2 separate regions of the Homo sapiens genome follow, and region 2 is linked to region 1. Evidence: fine-mapped expression QTL. A gene starts in region 1. The other region holds a variant in brackets. All regions are shown on one strand. Distances are between the middles of the regions. Region 1 holds the start of TNIP1 (TNFAIP3 interacting protein 1). Region 2 overlaps TNIP1 (TNFAIP3 interacting protein 1).

Evidence for each region. PIP is the estimated chance that this variant, and not a neighbour inherited with it, causes the effect.
Region 2: its variant is the best candidate, but not a certain one, in a credible set for the expression of TNIP1 in monocytes after LPS (Quach 2016, PIP 0.66).

The regions. Positions count from the first base shown.
Region 1 is chr5:151,078,212-151,083,726 of GRCh38, forward strand. TNIP1 (TNFAIP3 interacting protein 1) reads right to left here and starts at 2,823. Exons shown (of 18, transcript NM_006058.5): 1 at 2,669-2,823. RefSeq lists silencers at 653-702, 2,388-3,057, cis regulatory regions at 2,335-3,123, 2,623-3,392 and enhancers at 2,933-3,643, 3,358-3,417, 5,230-5,339, 5,460-5,515.
Region 2 is chr5:151,033,334-151,038,333 of GRCh38, forward strand. TNIP1 (TNFAIP3 interacting protein 1) reads right to left here. Exons shown (of 18, transcript NM_006058.5): 13 at 3,457-3,588; 14 at 2,249-2,374; 15 at 1,669-1,734; 16 at 275-466. Among named protein-coding and RNA genes, the nearest start is that of GPX3, 15 kb to the left of the region's middle. The variant C/T (reference allele first, on the strand shown) is at 2,444.

The DNA of each region.
Region 1 (5,515 bases):
GCACTGGGCACAGGAGTCATCAGGAAATGATGCTTGGGAGAGCGCTAGGAGAGCACTCTGGTTCTCCTCCTGCCTTCTCATCTCTAGGCCTTAATTTCCTCATTTGTGAAATGTGCCATTATTCTACTCATTCACTGAACAAACTCAGAAGAGCCATCCACCAGGCACTCTTCTCCCGCTACAGAAATACACTCGAGAGGACTAAGGAGGTCCCTGCTCACCCCCTTCTATTCTAGGAAAAGAGAAAGACAGTAAACAAATAAACACTAAAAATAACAATTTGCCAGACACTAAGTTCTATACATATGCTTTCTCATTCGCAAATAAGATTCTTTCATAGCATGATACACGTATGAGAAAAATAAAATAGTAACGTGACAGAAAGTGAAAAAAGGGGCTGCTTTGCATAAAAAGATCAGGGAAGGCCCCTCTGAGGAGCTGACATTTGAGCTGAGACTTGATCGATAAGGAAAAACCAGCCATGGGAAAAACGGGGAAAGATGTCCTGGGCAGAGGGAACAGCATGTATGAAAGCCTAAGGATGAGAACAAGCTTGGCTTGCTGGAGGGGGAAAAGCAGGCCAGCATGGTGTGACCAAATCACAGCGGGTACAGGAGTAAAACAGTAACCAGTGGGTTGGAGAGAGAGGCAGACAAACAACCTCCTACAACGCTGCCTCTCTCAAATCAGGTCGGCCTGACCCAACCAGGACATCCGGGCCCCAAGTCACAGGCAGCACTGGGGGTAAGGGTATGACTCAGACCCCACAGCTTCCTGGGGCCCCGAAAAAACTGGTGGGGGTATCCAGGGGCAGGCATCAACCTTCAGCATGAGTGCCATGCCATACCCATGGAACACCCAAGGCTGGGAGACAAACGTGGTTACATAAGCGTGTAGAACACTGCACACTCCCAGCGGCAGCTTCCAGAGGGGCATGATCACGTGCTTCCATGAAGTGCCAGTCCCTGATCACATTATTTTCCCGGGACACAGCCAGGACAGCAGCCTTGGTCAGGGGAAAGGGAACAGGGTCCAGGATTCAAGCGTTGCTAGTCTTGGGAAAGCCTTAACCTTCTCTGGGCCTCAGTTTCCTCATCTGAAAATTAAGAGTTGTTAGAAAGATTAAGTGAGGCCGGGCGGGGCGGCTCACACCTGTGATCCCAGCACTTTAGGAGGCTGAGACGGGCGGATCACTTGAGGTCAGGAGTTTGAGACCAGCCTGGCCAACATGGTGAAACTGTCTCTACTCAAAATACAAAAAAATTAGCCGGGGATGGTGGCGAGTGCCTGTAATCCCAGCTACTCGGGAGGCTGAGGTAGGAGAATCGCTTGAACCTGGGAGGCAAGTTGCCGTGAGCCGAGATCGTGCCACTGCACTCCAGCCTGGGTAACAGAGTGAGACTCTGTCTCAAAAAAAAAAAAAAGATTAAATGAGATACGGAATGTAAGCACTGTGCCTGGCACATAGTAAGCTATTAGCATTATCAGTTTTTTCACTGCCTCAGTTTCTTCTGTTGCAAAACAGAGACCACCACGGGGATGCTGAGTTTGTACTAATATTCTACCCTCCTAATACAATTCTACCCTCCTTTGTCAAGGATTTTTTTAAAACATTCTGAGTCCCCTTTTCTGACCTCTCATCAGATGCCGAATTCCCCTCTATCACACCCCATTGTTTGGAAAATGAGTAAGTGCTGATTAAATCCCATTTTGACCGTACTGTGAGAAAAAAATGATGCATTAGGAATCTACACATTTCCCTGCACTGTCATTCTGCAAGGGGGTGGGGAAGGACGTTGCTGATTCTTCTGCATCATCCACAAAAGTCCCTCCCTCCCCCTACCAAAACACAATCTCTCACCCAGTCGCACAAAATTCCCATCTGCTCCTGTACGCACAATGAATGTACAATGCACACGTGCACACAAATGTCCTACAGTGGAAAGCTCAGCCTTCATACTCCATCCCCAGAAGCACTCCTGGAAACTCATCCATCCTGCACATGCACACAAATGCCTCCAACAATGTGCATACAAAATATGTTCAACAGAAATAGTATAGTAGGAACTCTGGAGCCAAATGCCTGAGTTCATATCTGACTTTGCAACTCACAGCTGTGTGACCTCAAGCTCCAAGTACCTCGGTTTCCTAAAGTATAAAATGGAGATAATAACAATATTAATGTTTAGGATGGAAGTGACAATTAAATGAGTCTAATACACGTACAGCGTTAAGATCAGCACTTGGAAAGCGCCCAATAAAAATTATTATTTTCCTCCTCGTGACATATGTACACTGCTTCCACAACTTGATACGAAAACTCCTGACGCCGCGTAGGCAACTCGTCTCCACAGGATAGACACCCAAAGGGCCGCAGCGCCGCCCGCACCCGGAGGGTCTGCGCTCTCTACAACCGCCCCACGCCGTTCCCAGGCGTGCTACCCCGCGCAGTGCGCACGCGCGCCCCCCACCAGGCCCAGCGCCAAGCAGGGAGTAGCGGCTCAGCCCGGCTTGGCCGCTGGCGGAGACGCCCCGGGACCCCGCGCGCCGGGCCTGGGTGCACAAGCCACCTTCCCCAGCTCGCTCCCCGCCGCCACCGAGGCTCTGGACGATCTGGGCCTGGCCTCCCTTCCTCCCCTCCATCCCCGCTCCGGGCCGGCCGGCTTACCCGAGGACGGGGAGCTTGGGGACACAGCGCCCCGCTTGCTGCGTCCAGCCCCGAATCCAGGGACGGGGCAGCGGCCCGGGCAAGGCTCCGGCCCCCCGTAGCACTCCTAGGGCTCCTGGACGGGGGCAGGGCACCCGGGCCGAGGACGAGGAAGTGCCGGGGGCCTGGCCGGGCCGCCCCACCCCTGGGAAAGTCCCCGGAGACTGGCAGGCCACTCGCCCAATCGCGCCGCGCGCTCCGGGCGGGCCCGCGGCCGCCTGGGGTGGGACCGAGCGAGGTAAACACCGGCTGCCTGCGGTTCCGGGGGCCCGCGGTGTCTCTCGTCCCTTCGGCGGCCTTCCCCTCTAGGAGCGACTTCCCTGGGGCCACCGTCCCGGGCCTGCGCGGCGCCTTGCCGCACTCCCAGCGCCGGAAGCCCCTGTCGAAGGCCTGGGGCCACCTTGAAAGCCGGAATTTCAGAGCGGAGGCGAGCCACAGAGACCACCCAGCCCCTTCCTTGTGCCGAGGGGAACACAGGCCAGAACAGGGAGGGGACCTGCCAAAAGGCACGTAAGCATTTGGCCCTAAGCCAGAGCTGGAGCTCAGGCCCCCAGAGTTCCGTCCAGGGCACTCCAGGACTCTTCTTAACAAAGCTATAGAAATTCCGAGCTGAAAAGACCCATAAAGACTCTACCGCGAACATTTTTTGCTCCAGACATTGTAAAGGATTCCCAGACATCGTAAACGCTTTGCTCCAGACATTGTAGATGCTTTGCGTGCATTATTTTCTTCGCACAATCACGCTAGGGAGGTGGGTTTTACTACCTTTTCTTAAATAATATTTGAGTCACAAAAAGGTTAGATGACCTCAGTAAGGGGCTGAATCAAGATTCAAACCCGGGTGGGCAAATCCAGAGGCCGCCTTCCACCCTACCTACTTATATGTGGGCTAGATAATCCCAACAGACTGGGATTTCCTAGACCGGTAAGGAACATAAACTTGCTTTAAGGGTAGGAAAGCTTTTTAAAAGCTTATCCTTTTATTTTTAAAAAGAAAGAAAGCTAAATTTTAATTCCAAAAAGTGGAAGGTCTAACCTTGGAATAAAGAACAGCTCTTTAAACTAAATATAGCTTTATGAAAAACCTATTGCAAAAGACCCATTTCACTGGTACTGTTGAAAACTTAGTCATTGACAGGCCCTCATCCTCAAAAAGAATTAGGGGAAAGGATTTGGGGAACTGTTTAATACACACCCTCATTTTACAGAAGAGAGACCCATCAATCAACTGTGACTTCGCAATAATACACACACAGATACTTGCCCAAATTATATACCTAATCTGGGGATTCTCCTATAAGGCTTTGTAACCTCCTAGGGTTCCTTCAGTTAATTCAACGGTGTTATCAGATCTTCAAAACGATATTCATTCTAGTTTAATTATGAAAAGAATTACACTTATGCCTTGATTCAGAAGGGAGGGAGGGAGGAAGCGATGCAAACTCCAAAGCACCACTGAGTCTCACCACTGGGGGATCCTACAGAGAAACTGGGAATCCTGGCCCTGGTTTACATAGCAGCTCCCAGGCATCGTCTCCACCCATCAGGTCCGCACCTGCCAGTTTTCTTCCTGCTCTTTGTGCCTGTACTTCCCAATTCTCTTCCTGCAGGGCTCTCTTCCTATTCCCAACCCACATCTTCTCCACCCCCACCCTCTACCCACTGAAAACTAAAATCTACCTAAAAATGGCTGGTCTCTAATTACTTGCATTTTGTTTCCACACTATTTCAGCTGTTTTTATAGCATGTCTGGCCTTAGCCGGGCAGACAGTTTCATTTCTCAAAGTGTCCGCTGGGAATTCTCAAGCTTGACATAAAAAAATGGCACTCAGTCATCTTTTTGTCTGATTTCCTAGTTCTGGATCCTTTTTCTTAACAGTTCCAATTTGTGAGAAAACTCATTTATTTATAAAGTCGTGACTGCCCCCACCTCTTCCATTCTTTGAAGTCTTGGTTTGTCTTCAGGACATTCCACCCTGTTAGAGACCATGGAGCCCATAGATAACAAACCCCTATTTGACAGATAGGTAAACTGAGTCCTCTGTCTAGAAAAGGACTTACTCTAGGCCACACACATTGAGTGACACAACCAGGGCCTTGGAATCCAGGGCCTTGGCTCCCAGTCCTGTGTGCTTGGTCCACTGTACCAAGTTGTCTTTACAATGACATGATTTTTCTCACTGCCTTGCAGAAAACACCACTGTCATAAACACAGGCTATGAATTGAGCTAATGGGATTCCAATCCCTGCTCAGCCACTTACTACCTGGGTGGCCCCTCTAAGCCTCAGGCTTCTGTCTGGAAAATGGGGGATAATATACCTATTCCTCATGTGAATCATGAGGATAAATTGGACAATGCAAATAAAGCCCAAGGCTCAGCACACAGTAGGCATTCAAGAAATGATAGTGGTGTCTAGATGTGGGCTGCATGCATTGGGTAGAACTTGGCTCTTAAACTCAGCAATGCAACCTCACCAGGCGCCATCCCACCATACACATCCTCTGTGAGACCCTAGCCTCTAGGAGCATGGCAGGAATGGGAGACAGGCCCCCTAGCCTGGCACTGCCTGCTACCCTGTGGTCTGGAAGGGGATTTCCAAGTCAAGAAGCTGGGCCTGACGCTGGGAGCTGAGTGACTCAGGCAGGTGCAACCTCTTGTTCTTCCAGAGTAATGACAAGCACTCGCACAAAGCCACACCCAGAAGGAGAATCAAACTGCCTTTGTTTTGTTTTGTTTTATTTGGTTTTGTTTTAAAGCACGCAACTTCTCGATCTCCTTTCTGCTACTCCCTCCTCCACCACCCCTA
Region 2 (5,000 bases), 45 kb before region 1:
GGGAGTCCTCCTTCCCACCCTGCACTCTTACTCAGCCTTCTCCGTCCTAGACCAGTGACCCTGAACAGCTGTGGGGCAGCCCTGCGGGACTGTGGCCAGATCCCTGCCCCTGGGTAGCAGCCCAGAGCCAGGCCCTGGACACCCACCTGCCACCACGGTGCTGTTTAGTTCAGAAGGATGCAGTTTCTGAACCCCTCACTTAACCTTCCTCTCTGGAAGGTGTCTGGGGCAGCCTCTGTGTGTGCCCTGGAGCAAGGGAGGGACACAGACTCACCAGATGGAAGAGGCGCGAGTTGGGGAGTGGGGGCGGGTGCTCCATGGCCATGGGGGGAGGGGGGTAGCGGATCTGGGACCAGTCCTCGAAGCCATGGTGTGGCACCATGGCTGGCATGGGCGGGTAGGCGTAGGGGTAGGCCCCGCAGAGATGTTCTGGGTGGGGCTCCACATGGTAACGCTCTCCTGAGGCCTGCAAGAAAGGCTGACGTCTGGCTTTGGCCTGCAACAGGCTGCAAAGGACACCCATCTCATCACCCTCTAAATAGAATGTTAGCTCTCTGAAGGCTAGCAGGCTGGGTACCAAAGGCTGGTATGTGGTCATGAAAGGCTGCTACATGGGTACAGAAATCTGGATACATGGGCATAGAAGGCTGGATATATGAGCATGGAAGGCTGCATGGGCATGGAAGGCTGGGTACACATGCATGGAAGGTTGTGACATGGGCACAGAAGGCTGGTACATGGGCACGGAAGGCTGGTACATGGGCATGGAAGGCTAGTACATGGGCACGGAAGGCTGGTACATGGGCACGGAAGGCTGGTACATGGGCACAGAAGGCTAGTACATGGGCATGGAAAGCTGGTACATGGGCATGGAAGGCTGGTACATGGACACGGAAGGCTGGTACATGGGCACGGAAAGCTAGTACATGGGCACAGAAGGCTGCTACATGGGCAGTGAAGGCTGGTACATGGGCACAGAAGGCTAGGTACATGGGCAGTGAAGGCTGGTACATAGACACGGAAGGCTGGTACATGGGCACGGAAGGCTAGAACATGGGCACAGAAGGCTGGTACATGGGCACGGAAGGCTGGGTACATGGGCACGGAAGGCTGGGCACATGGGCATGGAAGGCTGGGCACATGGGCACAGAAGGCTCATACATGGGCACGGAAGGCTGGGTAAATGGACACAGAAGGCTGGGCACATGGGCACGGAAGGCTGATACATGGAAACGGAAGGCTGAGCACATGGGCATGGAAGGCTGGTACATGGACACGGAAGGCTGGTACATGGGCATGGAAGGCTGGGCATGGGCACAAAAGGCTGGGCATGGGCACAAAAGGCTGGTACATGGGCACGGAGGGCTGGAACATGGGCATAGAAAGTTGGATACATGGGCACGGAAGGCTCATACACGGCCAAAGAAGGCTAGTCACATGGGCACGGAAGGTTGCTACCTGGACACAGAATGTCAACAGTGATGACAGCTAATACATTGTGGGCACTGCCTCTGTACCAATACTGCTCTAAGGCTTTTCCTGTATTACTCATCAGTTAGTTAGCAGAGGATGTCCCCACGCCCGAGCACACACTGTGCATCCATCAGGCTAGCTCCATGAGGAAGGTAAGAGGATGTCAGTGCTGCTACCTCCCTCAAGCCTCCTCACCTTTGCTTTCCTCTTCTGCTGTCTGAGGGCTTCTCTTGCCTTCTCCTCATCTTTGAATGCTTTTAGCTGAGAGAAGAAGGGAGGGAGAAAAGACTGTCGGCACAGGTGGTTTCTGGCCAGGCCTGGATCCAGGGCCTAACCAGCCACGAGGACTGACCGGCTGATGCTTCCCTCTGGGCCACCATGCGTGGGCCAGCCCCGGGAAAGGGCCCTGAGGGCGGAGCACAGCCCAGGCTGTTGCTGCAGGCCACCTGCTTGTCACAGTGGTCTGTGCACAGGTCAAGAGGGTTCACGTGAACCTCGCTGCTTCTCTGCTAACATCTTTTAGTTCCACTCTGGGAGAGTAAAGCCCAGAACTGACTGTGGAAAGTCAGAGGTAGAGATATCTTAGAGTAAAACTCGTAATTGTACAAAGAAAGAGTCAGAGAGGGGAAGGGCCTTGCCGAGCTCAAATATGATTGCAGAGCTGGAGAGAAGCAGTGAGGGTCCTGACATCCAGCCTCACCAGGGCCCTCCAATCCATGCCCCCTCTCCCCACGAGGACAGGCCAGTTGCCCTTCCTGGGTCCAGTCACTCTTACCTGGGCATTTGACAGGGTGACCTGGGCCTGCAGCTTCTCCACTTGCTTCTTCAGCTCTTCCTTCTCCTCATTCATGCGCTCACGATCACTGCGCTCCCTCTGGAAGTCCTCCTCGAAGATCTTCACCTGGTGTGGAGGGAGGGTGAAGAGAGGGAGGGGGATGGTCCTGAGTGGGGATTTCTCCTCAGGCCCAGA[C/T]TCCCATGCCTCCTGCTGGGGTCACAGATGGCAGAGCTGGGGGTCGCCATGGGGAGTGGGACAGCTACACCTCCAGCCTCCACCTTAACTTCAAACAGAGTAGTTCTGTGTCCCTCTATCTTACATTCTGGGCTTCAAGCTAGGACTTTATTTGAACAAAGGATATATGGTTTTAAAAAAACGTTGAAAGCCATCAACCAGTGCAATCCTTTCACTCCGCTGAGACCCACAGGGGCAGTGATCACAGAACCAGAGTGTGGTGTAGACCAGAGTTTGGATCTGCTGGTTCTGAGGGCAGAGACCCTACAAACTCCGCTAGGGCTCCAGGGTGCCCTGGCAGAGGTGGGTTGGGTGGGGCCTGCCTCTGTCTCTTAGCCTGTAGTTTCACATCCTTAGTGCAGATCAGCTGAGACACTGGCTAGGTTCAAGGCAGTTTAGGAGGATTAAATAGCACAGAGACAATGGGAGAGCCACAACCTTTTCGCTTTCTTTCACCCCAATCCTTCTGTGTCCCTCAGGGCTAGTAGGTCTTTAATACCATTTTAGTACCTGCCAATCTCCTTTAAATAAAGGAGAAAAGAACTCCAGTTCAGAGTCTTCATTTGGCAAGAGTATCCGGCTAGAGTTTAATAACATTGTTCTGTTTTTATTGTTTATTGCGTACAGTTACTTTCTACTTGTGACAAATAATAAATGGTTTTTTCCAATTACAGCAGTGATATAAAGCTCCCTTTTAAATTCATTTATTTAGAATTTATTTTTTAAATACTAGGTAAATAATAGCACGTGTGGGGCATAGAGATGGCTAAATCATAAAGGTGGTAGAGGAACGACTTAAGCTAGGGTTATGGTGCTGGAAAGGATAAACCTAGAGCCAGTGGGGGGCCCTGGCCAATGGCCAGAAAGTGGATTACTAATTACAGGTTCCATGTGATTCCAAGCCGTCTGGGCCCTCAGGAAAGCTCCAGCTCCCACAGAGCACCTCCCACCTGATTTCCTCCCGGAAGCCTCACCTGCTGTTTCAGCAACTCATTCTGCGTGACCAGCTCCTGTTTCCTTAGGAGGGCCCCTGCTCCTTCTGGGCTCCCAAATGCTGTTGGTGGAGATGATGGCGGGGTTTGGATGCTCAGTGCTTCCTCCAGGGCCTGGAATCAGGAAAAGATGGGACCATCAGCAGGAACCCCTGGAAATCAGGGCCCTTTGGAGGGGTCATCCTCAGGGAACTCCTTCCTAATAATAATCATACTAATAATAGCCACCACTACCAGTCCTATTTAATAAATGCTGCCCTATTTATTTGCATTCTACACATATCATTTCATTGGATCTTCTGCACAGTGCCATGAAGAAAAGACTATGATCATCATCCTCATTTTACAGATGTGAAAACTGAGGCTCAGAGACCTGAAGGGGCTTGTCCAAGGTCAAGGTCACACAGCTAGTAAGTGGCAGAGCACAGATTCAAGCCCAGCACATGCTCCTACCCAGCAGGCTAAACTGGGGTTGTCATGCAGAAGGGGAAACCTCCCCTTCCCTGAACATGTGTGGCTCAATTCTTAGCACCCAGACCTAGAAGGAAGATTAAGTCCTCCGGGGGAAGCTTCAGTCTCCCCAACAACTGCCCTGCCCTGAGATTCTTCACTTTCAGCAACCCATTCCCATCCAAACCACCCCTTCCATCCTCAACACTTATGTACATAGAGAAGACTGGATTTAATTTCTGCTTAGTTAATATTTTCCCTTTCTAACACTGAAAATGGGCTGAAATATCATCAAATAACATTTTGAAAATAAAAAAATACTCTTAATCTATCATGTTCACAATAGATTATATAAACAGTGTGCCCACATCTTCTTAAAGGTTTCAGTTAACCGTGTTTCCCCTTTAACTCTGTTAACATGTTACTCAGAACTCTGGAACATGTCTCAAGACTGGGCACCCTGGACTTTGGCCCCAGGACAGCATCGCCCATGGGCCTCCCTGGACCGAGGGGAGATAGAGACCTGGCCCAACTTGGACTCGGGCTTCCACCTGGTCTCCTCAGCTCCCCTAGACACGCAAAGAAACTGCAGGACCGAGAGTAAATTCAGGATGCTCCGAGGGGAAGTTATGGCTCCACTTTATCTTCCTACTCCACCCCACTTTTAAATGAAAAGACTGAGGTCCAGCGACAGGGAGATGCCTAGGTCATGAGCAAAGAAGGCCACATGCCCTGCATTACTCATCCACATGGTGTCTGTCCCTGGCTCTGCCAAGAAAACCTCCAAGGTCATCTTTATGATCAGCAACATGGACAATTCTCTGCCTGGATTTAGAGCCCCAAGTCCCCCAGCTCAGGACAGATCGCGTTTCTTTCTCTGGAAACAGGTCAAGGGCCCCAGACTTGGCATAATCAGTGTTTACAAAACACCAAAACCAAAAAGAAAGGGTTTCCCCAGCAGGCCTAGGAATGCTCAACTCATGCCAGAGTCCACTGTCACCAGGGTCAGGAGGCAGAGGGAAAGGAAAAACAATTAGCACGAAACGAAAAGCTGAGCCATGAACTTAACTCCTCCA